Linked DNA regions of Homo sapiens: region 1 is linked to region 2. The links come from fine-mapping of genetic effects on gene expression. A gene starts in region 2. The other region holds a variant in brackets. All regions are shown on one strand. Distances are from middle to middle. Region 1 overlaps LINC02941 (long intergenic non-protein coding RNA 2941). Region 2 holds the start of LINC02941 (long intergenic non-protein coding RNA 2941).

The links. PIP is the estimated chance that this variant, and not a neighbour inherited with it, causes the effect. A credible set is the group of variants that fine-mapping cannot tell apart.
Region 1: its variant is the best candidate, but not a certain one, in a credible set for the expression of LINC02941 in tibial artery (GTEx, PIP 0.85).

Annotation. Positions count from the first base shown.
Region 1 is chr6:140,035,216-140,040,612 of GRCh38, reverse strand. All of the region lies in intron 1 of LINC02941 (long intergenic non-protein coding RNA 2941), which reads right to left. It overlaps LOC107986652 (a long non-coding RNA gene), which reads left to right. Exons shown (of 3, transcript XR_001744384.2): 3 at 3,989-4,344. Among named protein-coding and RNA genes, the nearest start is that of LINC02941, 62 kb to the right of the region's middle. The variant T/A (reference allele first, on the strand shown) is at 3,266.
Region 2 is chr6:139,973,954-139,979,350 of GRCh38, reverse strand. It overlaps LINC02941 (long intergenic non-protein coding RNA 2941), which reads right to left and starts at 3,032. Exons shown (of 2, transcript NR_121623.1): 1 at 2,919-3,032. It overlaps LOC103352541 (a long non-coding RNA gene), which reads left to right. Exons shown (of 3, transcript NR_121624.1): 2 at 478-729; 3 at 947-1,001.

The DNA.
Region 1 (5,397 bases), 61 kb before region 2:
AATGCTGCTGAAGTACTTGTGATCTCACTATGAGTAAGGCAATTACTCAATGTGCTTCTGAAACTTTTTGAAGAAAAGATTTTGTCTCTCCTCCCTGAACTGACCAGGTTGATCTTCCCTGGTCCAGAGGTCTGTACACATACCTCCAGGAGCAAAGCTGGGCCTATTTTCAATCTGGCTCTATAAATATTTAATAAAGAGTTTGAGAAGAGACTGACTAGAGATCCATCTGTTAAACTGCTGGATCCATACCAGACACCATGAATTAACTACAAAATAGGTCCATTATATTGTCAGGGTTCGATAGAGGGCCAGAGATATGCAGCTGATCCCACATTCTGAATAGACTAATGTTGAGATAGGAATAAGGCAGTCAACAGTAGATGAATACAAATTCTTCCATAAAATGAAGTTAATTCCTTGTGCAAATCAGTTAGCAATGATTCGACCAGTTTAAAACAACACAACTAACTCTGATGTTTTTACAATAAGCTATCTCAAGCTGAGCCAAAATTCTCAAAGTCTGATTTCAATTGCCACTAGCTCCTGAATATTGTCATTCCTCGACAAATGAAAATAGACCAGAAGAAATGCAACAAAGATAAACTAGATGTATTTGTTCTTTCACAGTCATTCAACTCCTAACACTTTATAAAATTAATGAAAATAATTTTAAAAACCAAACATCCAAACAACCACAAATCAGACTACCACGGTGCTTTGCTGTCACAATATGAAAGGTGCTGTTTGTATTCTGTAGAATGAAGAATGTCAGGATTTTTGATATAGCATTGATAGTTCATAAAAGGTTATGTCAACCTCCTTTAGAGCAAGTGGATCTATTTTAATATGGTAGGTGAAGGATAGAATACACGGATACCAGGTTCTATCCCTTTTAAGCTTTCCATCCTGTTTTTCTTTCCAGGGACAATTTAAAATAGAAATAAATGGGCTTAAATAAAGATAAGTGTCAGTTTTTGTCCACTCAGATATTTTTTTTTCTCATATCCTCATTTCTTTTTCTGTCCTTAACCCCAAATGTTGAGAAAGAATACTTCCACCCAAGGCAGCAATAGGTTCCTATTTCTGGTCAAATGTCTTCCATCCCTTTGCCGCTTTCTAGCTCTTTTTTTGTTTCATTTTGTTTAAGCAATCATGTCCTTTAGGCATTAAAAAAAAGAGTAGCATCTATTAGAAGACTCTCCTAAGGCAATTTTTTAAGGGAGGGAGACAGAAAAAGTACTTGACACTGAGAAAATAAGAAAATAAATTAAAGTTCTTGATTGCATTCAAATTCACATGCTAAGAAAAAGAAATTGACTCTTTTTTCCACTCACAGTCTTAACCCATGTGCACATACCACACATGCATACATACACACACATAGCAAAAGCACACTTACATACATGTAGTCACACTGAAATGAACACAAACCTCCTGCAGCATTTCAGGTAAAAGTTAAGAAATCTATTTATCCCAGATATGTGGGATATATACATATACAATCTTACTTTGAATGAATAGATATATGTTCTCAGAACAGATATGTTCCTAGAGTAGCCTTTGCTATTCTATTGATATAAGGCCACCCAAAACCCCATCAGTAAACAATCTATTAGCATTTGTACAATGCAGTAAGCCCATTTTTCATGCCATGTTATGATTGGGCTTTAAGACAACAGGAGAGTGAAGGAATTGCAACCCCTACGTAAAGACTGTCTGGTGGCTACTGGACCATATTGTACATTTGAATATATCTGTTTTGAGACTAAAAGTTCTGTAGTATGGATGAAAACAGATTCTCACCATTCAAGAATGATTACAGCTCCATTTGGTTGTGGCCCCAAAGGATAATAACAAAGCCCTTTTTCAATTTAGGATTTTAGAAAGTAAAGCTGACAAATAGGTATGGATCATACTGTCAGAAGGAATATCTGTATTCTACAGCACAGCCCTGTTTACAGCACCTGAAAGCTTCTAATAGAAGCACAACTTTGACAGATTGTAATTTTAAGACTCTTTGTTATTACTCTTAAAGAATAAATGAAATAGTGATGCTATTATTAAAATTTTCCAAATCCTAGTCCAGATTTGGGAAGTAAACGAGTAAGTTCATTGACATAGTTCTCTAATTTGTAAGATTATTCTACAGTCATTATAACACACATATGCATAAAATATAAGGTAATGACACAAAGAGGTTGTTTCATGTCATTGGACCTGCTCTGTCCTTTGCGCTGGGAAATGAGTTTCCTGGGGAAGAAAGAAAATCAAGCTCTTAGATTTCTCTTCCAGATCTAACATGCTAGAATTGAGTCTCTTTTCTCATGCATCAAGTTGCTGGATGTAAGATGTCACCAGCTCAATGGCTGCCCATACAACTTACAAATGTCCATCGGGTGTAACAACACAGGAAATCAGTGCCACAGCACCAAGAAGCCATGCATGATGACCACACACTTTGATACAGCTCTGGGGTCTGCCGTGCCACAAGCTCTATCCCCATGTTGCCTTCCCACCTGGACCTCTTGGCAAGAGGGTCACAAAGTTACCATGTATTAGATCCTGAGAGGGTCACAGGGATCATATAATCCAACATTCTCATCTCATAGATGAGGAAGTGAGAGCTACGTACTGCATGGCATTCCTGAGGTTTCACAGAAAATTTCTGTCAAAGTCTGGACTGAAGCATATGATTCCTGAAAAACAGTTTTCTAGAATCTTACTATGCAAAGCATAGTGCTCAGAGCAGCAGCATTGGGAACTAACTAGAAATGCAAACTCTCAGGATTTGCTTTATACCTACTGTATTAAACAGTAGGTATAAAAACAAAGAAACAAAATCAATAAAATATATGTATATATGCCTATGTGTGTATATATACATGTATATAGATCTATTTTTATATATATATATATATATATATATATAGAGAGAGAGAGAGAGAGAGAGAGAGAGTGTGTGTGTGTGTGTGTGTGTGTGTGTGTGTGTGTGTGTGTGTGTGTGAAGAGACTTATTTTAAAGAACAGGCACATGCAGTTGTGGGAGCTGGCAAACCTGAAATTTACAGAAAAGGCCAGCAGGCTGGAAACTCAGGCAGGATTTCTATGTAGCAGTATTAACAAAGGACTCTATCTTCTCTGGGAAACTTTGCTTTTTACTTTTTAGGCATTCAATTGACAGTGCATCATGGTCCATTAACGGTCCATCCACATCTCTGGTGGCAAACTCCCTTACTTAAAGTCAACTGATTATATTAGTCAC[T/A]TCTACAATCCTTCATAGCAACATCCAGACTAATGTTTGACAAAAACACTGGGCACAATAGCTTAGCCAAGCTGATAAATAAAATGTATCTATCACCTCTACTGAATCAGAATCAGCATTTTAACATGATCCCTAGGTGATTCTTGTGTCCATTAAATTTTGAGAAGCTCCCATTTTGCTGTTTATAAGTTTTGGCAACATCAAAGTTCCACTGTTATAACAGAGAGACCCACTGTAACAGTGCATTAGGTAAGTTAGAAGTTTATTTCTCCCTCATGAAAAGTTTGAACATTACAGTCTGAGACAAAGAAGGAGATCTGACAACCTCCAGGAACCCAGGACTCTTCTAACTTGCTGCTCTGCCATCTTTAATGCATGGCTTCCATTAGCTGGGCCAAGTTCATTGTTTCAGATCTTGCCATCATGCCTTTGTTCTCATCAGGATAAAGAGGGAAAACAGCCAGAGAGGGCACAATTATTTCCTTTAACTATGTGACCCAGAAGTTACACTCATCTCAGCTGTTCAAATCCCATAGTTCAAAACTTGGTTATGTAGCCACATATAGCTGCAAGGGAGGCTGGAGAACATTGTCCTTTTACAGAGTGGCCAATTATGCAATAATAATTCAGTAAGATTCAAAATTCTGTAATTAAAGAAAAAATGGGAGACTGGTTACTATATAAGACAGCTAATTATTCCTGCTCTTTATTTTTCTGCACCAGGCTACCTGCAAGATGAGGAGACAGGAGAAGCAGCAGAAGAAAGGAACCAGATTTCCTGCTTTCTTCTATAGTGAAGAGAATTGAACCCAGAGTATCACTTGCATAAGGAAACAAGACTGTTGGCTGCTCATGCTTTCATTGCATTGATTAGCTACTTCCTCAATATGGAGCCACCCTTGACAAATGCAGCCAGAATGTAAGTTTTCCTTCACCGACGGAAGTAGCTGTGGTAGAAGAAAGATAATTCTAGACTCTGAGGGTTTTTGGGGGGGTTTTGTTTCGTTTTTACATTTCATCACTTACATTTCCTCATTGTCTTACAAGAATAACTCACTTCTCCCAGTTTCCAAGGTCAAGAAGAAATATCAGGAGAAAATAACTCTCTAGCTCAATTTTTGTAATTCTCATATTCCACATCTGGTGATAAAATCATATACTGCCACTTTTAAAGTTTATGCTGACCATCAAACTCCTTATTTCCTTTCCTTAGGCAGAAGTCTCTGTGTCTGGTGGGTAAATGAGAAGTATGCAGAGGTATGCCTAAGGATAGTTTTAGGCAGAAGAGTGATGTTTGCATAAGTATATTTTTATTTAATCGACGAAAGAAGGTTGACACAAAAATTACTTAATAATAGAAGAAAAATCTGTAAAAATATATCAATTTCTCTTTGCTACTACCTCCCACAATAACACATACACAAATTTCCTTCAGAGACAAACAGCATATTGTGCAGAATTTGCTGTAACCAAGGTAACTAAACATTGTTCTCATATCAACTTTTAAGACGAAAAAAACAGGCATTGTTGTATTGAATGTTTCTTTGTAGTAGTGTTTATTGCTATGATATTTCCTGAAATTTTCAATATTTAGGTTTACATCAGGCTACTTGTTTTCTTCTAGGCACTAACTATACCTTTCAACAGGTAGTTAGAGGCATCCGCATTATAGGCCAAAGTGTTTTTTGAACCAAACAAATAAAAATGTATCAATGACAGGATTCTACTTATTTTCACATCTCTATAATAAGAGTATTTATTAGCATAACAGAATATCAATTTGTAGATGCTATATATTAATTTCATGGCCCACAAGAATAAGTGTACATACAAAGAATGATATATACAGTATGACATTATCAATAACTTGCCTGTTTACCATTTTATATAAAACCATTTGACATCTCTCTCACCAAACTTGATTCATTAATAATTATCTCTCATCTAGTTTTTTGATGAAAAAGAATGAGAGAGTTCATCCCAAATTTTATATAACTTTATATGAGGATCATTTCTCCCAAGTGGATATAAAGACATCTTTCTTAATGCAGATACTCTTTCAAAGTTTTCATTTATATGAGCGTTGCTCTTAGATGTCCAATTATGCAATGCAAACAAAACTCTTTTTGATG
Region 2 (5,397 bases):
TGAAATCATTCCCAACAGTTTTCTCAGTAAAGATGAATATAAGGATTCACTTGAGTTCATCAAAGTGCCCCACAGATTCTTTGGTTATCTGTCTAATTCTGACATAATTCTGGAGTTTTTATAACTCACTTGGCAGTCTACTACAACCTTGATTATCCCATGGTTATTTAAGGAAGTTTTTATTTTTTAATATATTTTCTGTTTTACAAATTATCTGATGATGTGTATCATTTCTAAAAACAGAACAGAATCAACATTTTTTAAAAGTTTAGTCAAGAAAGGGACATCTAAATTGTTTAGATAACTGTGGTGACATAGACCAGAGAAGGTTTCAAAGGAAATCACTGTTTGTTCGTGAAGTGCAAATCCCTTTCCAGGAAATTAGTATCATGAAAATTATTACCAAAAAATCATAAATATATGCAGGGTTTTGTTTTGAATATATCTCTCATTAAAAAAAACAAATTATTTTTTCAGATGGAGTTGCTTGGATACAAGGAGAATCTTACAGAATACAAATGAACTTGAAGGCATTAGTAATATTTTCAAAATAATAGAGAAATGACACAAAGAGTGAAAGAGGTGAAATCTGTCTTTGATGGGAATAATATCTAAAAGGAGTATTGTACATATCTGCTGGCAGCTTTAAAAAAATTAATGATTACTGAAATTCAGAAATGTCAACAGTATGAAATGAGCAAAATTACTTCCCTAACAAGATTTTATAAGGTGAGCAATTGTTTTGAACATTTTCTAACCTTAACTTTTCTATTTATCTTAAGAATTTAAAAAACAAACAAAAAAAAACCCTAGTGTTTAAATATGAAAAGGAGACTTGTGGCAAATTCAGAATATAATAATTGACCATTAAAATAGAAATGCCTTCTCTAACCAGAAAAATGAATAAGGAAATTATAACTTACATTCTCTATGGATGTCTTTACAGAGATAAAGTAGTGGGATATTTCCTTGAAATAATGTTCATCATCAATGCTGAAGTTTACAGAGGACAAAAATATGAAATCATGTGTTCATAGACAGCCCCAGGACACACACAGTGGATGCATTGTGTTCTCCTGGGTTGCATAACTACTTTGAAAGAAGTTTTCTTTTCTGTGTCATAAAAGAAGACTTTTTGGCTCTGCCAGGATACTCTACCATTTGGCCCCATAGACTTCAAGCATGCCTGAAGATACGTGCCAATGGCTTGTTGGTTTTTGAAGATCATTCTGATCTCTGCTGAGTTACCCAACTGGACTCAGAAGGGTCTGACCCACGTGCCACATTCCAGCTGTTTGCTTGTTTGTTTTTAATCTCAACCTAGTTTAATGGGAAGAAGGTGAGTCACCTTGTGTGTATGTCAGCTGATATTTATGTCATGGAAACTTAAAGGGGATAGACTTGAAATTGAAAAGATAAGATTGTGATTGAATGGGCCTTGTATAAACTATGTTTTGTTTTTGTTCTCTTGCTTACTTACCTTGTAAACAGATTCCTTGAGTCTTAAACCAAGGATCTTAATCTTTGGTATTTACAGAGCCTTTCTTCCATGAAGCAGAGTTATTTAGGATGCTGCCAGCAAATGAGCTCTCAACTGGATCTGTCGTCATCATCATAGAACTTACTATGGTCTGGTAGTATTCAAAGTGCTTACTTAAATTAATTTCTGGAAACAACCTCACACATTTGACTCTATGTATTTTTCCACCTCATGATGAGGAAACAGACACAAAAAGGCCAAATGATTTTTTCAAGGACATTCAGCTAGGAAAGGGCAAAGACAGGCACAGATGAAGAAATAATCACAGGCACAAACGAGGTATCTGTTAATAGAGATCCTAGGAATCTGTGACTGTCAATATGAATTACAAATATGAAAATTATTTGTTGAATCAACAAAGTGGAAATAAAACTATTTTTTCTTAGCTGATTTGGTAATGACTAACAGTCAACATACCTATTAAGTGGTTTTGGTTGAAATAATTTAATTTGTTGTCAATACTAGTTCCCCCCTTTAAATTTAATGATACAGTTCCAATATCTAGATGAACAAATAAAGATAGGAGAAAGAATTCTATATTTTAGTCATTTCTGCTTATGGCCTCAATTTCAGATTCCAGAAATCCATAGCTAAGTAGTTATAAAGCAATTACAGTTGTTAGAGTAGCCCAGGATGGCTGGACAAAGTTGAATATTTCATGACTAAAAACAACAACAGCCAGGCACAGTGGTTCACACCTATAATCATAGCACTTTGGGTGGCTGGCTTAAGCCTGGAGTTCGAGACCAGCCTGGCAGTAAACTGAGACCTTGTCTCTATAAAAGATACAAAAATTAGTTGGTGTGGTGGTGTCTGCTTGTAGTCCCAGCTACTTTGGAGGCTGAGATGGGAGAATCACCTGAGCCCAGGAGGTTGAGGTTGCAGTGAGCTGAAATCGTGCCACTGCATTCCGTCGCTGCACTCCAGCAGCCTGGGTGACAGAGCGAGACCCTATCTCAAAACAAAACAAAGCAACCAAATCAATTCTCACTAAAAATAAACATACCTAAGACATCATCGTATATTTTAAATTCTTTCTAATTAAAGCAATGTTACTAAATATATTTTAAAGAGGCTTGTTATAAATGAAATACTTACAAGGTCATTGTACTGAATTCAAAATTTTTGTTATATGGAAGTTGTAGAACTTTGGGATTATGAAATACTAACACAAGTAAAAAATATAAAGTCCAATCTTTGAAAAGAAGATACTTTGTCTTAGTCAGTTTGGGCTGCTACAACAAAATACCATGGATGTGGTGGCTTCAACAACAGACATTTATTTTCTCACAGTTCTGGAGGCTGGGAAGTCTAAGATCAAGGTACTGGCCGATATGGTTCTTGGTGAGGGCATTCTTCCTACCTGATAGATAGTTACCTTTTTGCTGTGTGCTCATATGATCTTTCCTCAGTACCTGAGCATGGAGAGAGAGAAAGCTCCTGTGTTTCTTCATTTCCTTTGAAAGACATTAATCCCATCACGTAGTCCCCAACCTCATGATCTCATCTAAGCCTAACTACCTCCCAAAGGCCCCACCTCCAAATACCATCAAGATGGGGATTAGGACTTCAACATATGAATTTGGGAGTAACACAGTCAGTCCATAGACACTTCTAGGAAATCTTTTCCATGTAGTCCAGATGCATCTAGCATGCAAACCACAACAGGCTACAGAAGTGACTTGAGGGCAAGAAGAAAGATCCTTCTTTCAGACCCTAAACTCATCTTTCATGGGCCCAGGAAGGAGCCCCCAGCATGGAGGATACCCAAAGACTGAACAATAATATGAGGCTTGAGGCTCACAAATAAACCTCATTAAGAGAGAACTGGGAAAAATCAGAGTCAGAGAAAGAAGGAAAAAAGGTATGGCGGTGGGTAATGGGATTTGAGGTAGGAAAGGAAATGGGAAGGAGCAGAGCACTAGGAGGGAAGGGGAGGCGAAGGGGGAAGGTCAAAGGAAGAGAGAGGGAAGAAGATGACAAGAGCGAGCATAGTTTCACTTTCTCAGCATTAAAATCCTGAAATGGACACTCTAAAAATAAAAACTACAGGAGGTGGGGATTTTACCTGTAAATAATTTAAAAATCACTGAGCTTCCTGCCATGATAGCGCAGGCTATAGATTCCAACAATCTGAAGTGATTTTAAACGTCCCTCTCTAGAGAATAAGTAATAACATCCATCTCCCCCATAGAACAAAATTCCCTTTCTTGATGGAACTGAATGGGGTCAGTGGCATTTTTTTCTTGGAATCTTCACCAGCCCAAACTATAGACATAAGCCAACTTTCACAGAGGCTAGAGATTGTTAAGCTGTGGCTTGTCACCTATAACCCATTTTTATAAAATGTGAATGAAGGCTACTATATTGTTAGTGGCCACCTGTGGACATAAAGAATTTATAAGAGAAAAGTCAATAATGTCTTACCATGTAAGCACATCTGAAATACTGATATGATTTCAGCATTAAGTAAACACTAAAGCAAATTTGGTGACTAGTTGTATGTGTGATACACATATACATATGCATGTATGTATACCATTTAAAAAGAAACACCAAAAAAGTTTAAAATACACTGATTTTATGACAGCTGAAGAGCTAATTGTTGCTTTCCACTATTAAAACTTGGTAAATACCAATAGGAGAGGAATTGCTCAGCTTTAGGAAGGGGTAATTAGGTTTAATGGAACCAGTTGAGAAGAGGAACATTAAGCCTGTTGGGAAAAATTTCCTCCCAATGAAAACTATTAGATAATGGAATCACTTTCCAAGAGAAATGCCTGAAATCCTATCACTGAGGATATTTAGGATTCAGCTGGACATTACAAGACATTCCATGTCTCAGACTTTATGCCCTTTTATGTCCAAAATATGTTAGTATTTTATTTGATGAAATATATTCCAATCCTTTCTTCAGGACTACATATATAAAGAGACTGTATATGTGTATAAATATGCATATATAGTATAAATACATACATATATGTACTATATTTAGACTGTATATGTACAGTCCAAATATACACATAAATACACATATACATATACATACGTACTAAATATACATATACATATGTACTATACATATGTAGTCTAAATATAGTACATATGTGTATATGTGTATGTAGAGAGAGATAGGTAGATAGGCAGGTAGGTAGATTAATTGATAAATAGATAAATAGATATAAGGGAGAGAAACAGAAAAAGAATCTTAAGATTCAAGGTTCTTTTCTGTTTGTTTTTAAACTTGCAGGTTACAAATGAAAACACTAAAAACTGTGATTGATGAACAATAAAGAAATATACTCAGATAACAAGCACCTCCCTTTTTCTTGTTATACTAATTTCACCCTCAAGAGTCAGAAGCAACCAGGTTTGCATTTATTTTCAGTTAGTACTGGTTGCTTCTGAGAATAAGCCCAACTATTAATCTGAAATTCCAATAAAAGCACCAAAAAAAAAAAACCTCAGATGACAAAAATTAAAAATGTTCAGACTCTTAGTGAGAATTTAAGGTTCAATGACTTATCTAACTTTTTCTTGTAAAAAGAACAATCACTTTCAGAAAACCTATGCCCGCATGGAATGATGCATCCACTTCCTCCTAAACATAGATCACATTATCAGTGTTGCCAAATATATCAACAACAGCCTGACTGTTGAACACCATGTTTATCTAATGGACCATAACAGACAGCGAGAACAAGCACAGTTGGAGACAGCAATCTCTAAAAGTATTTCCAAACCAGCATCATTCTTTATTTTTTTTCTTTCCTTTTTCAATTAAGGGAAAGGGAGTTATTAAGCAAGACATACAAAAGCACTGTTAGGATAGCTCCACTGAAACCATTTCTTTC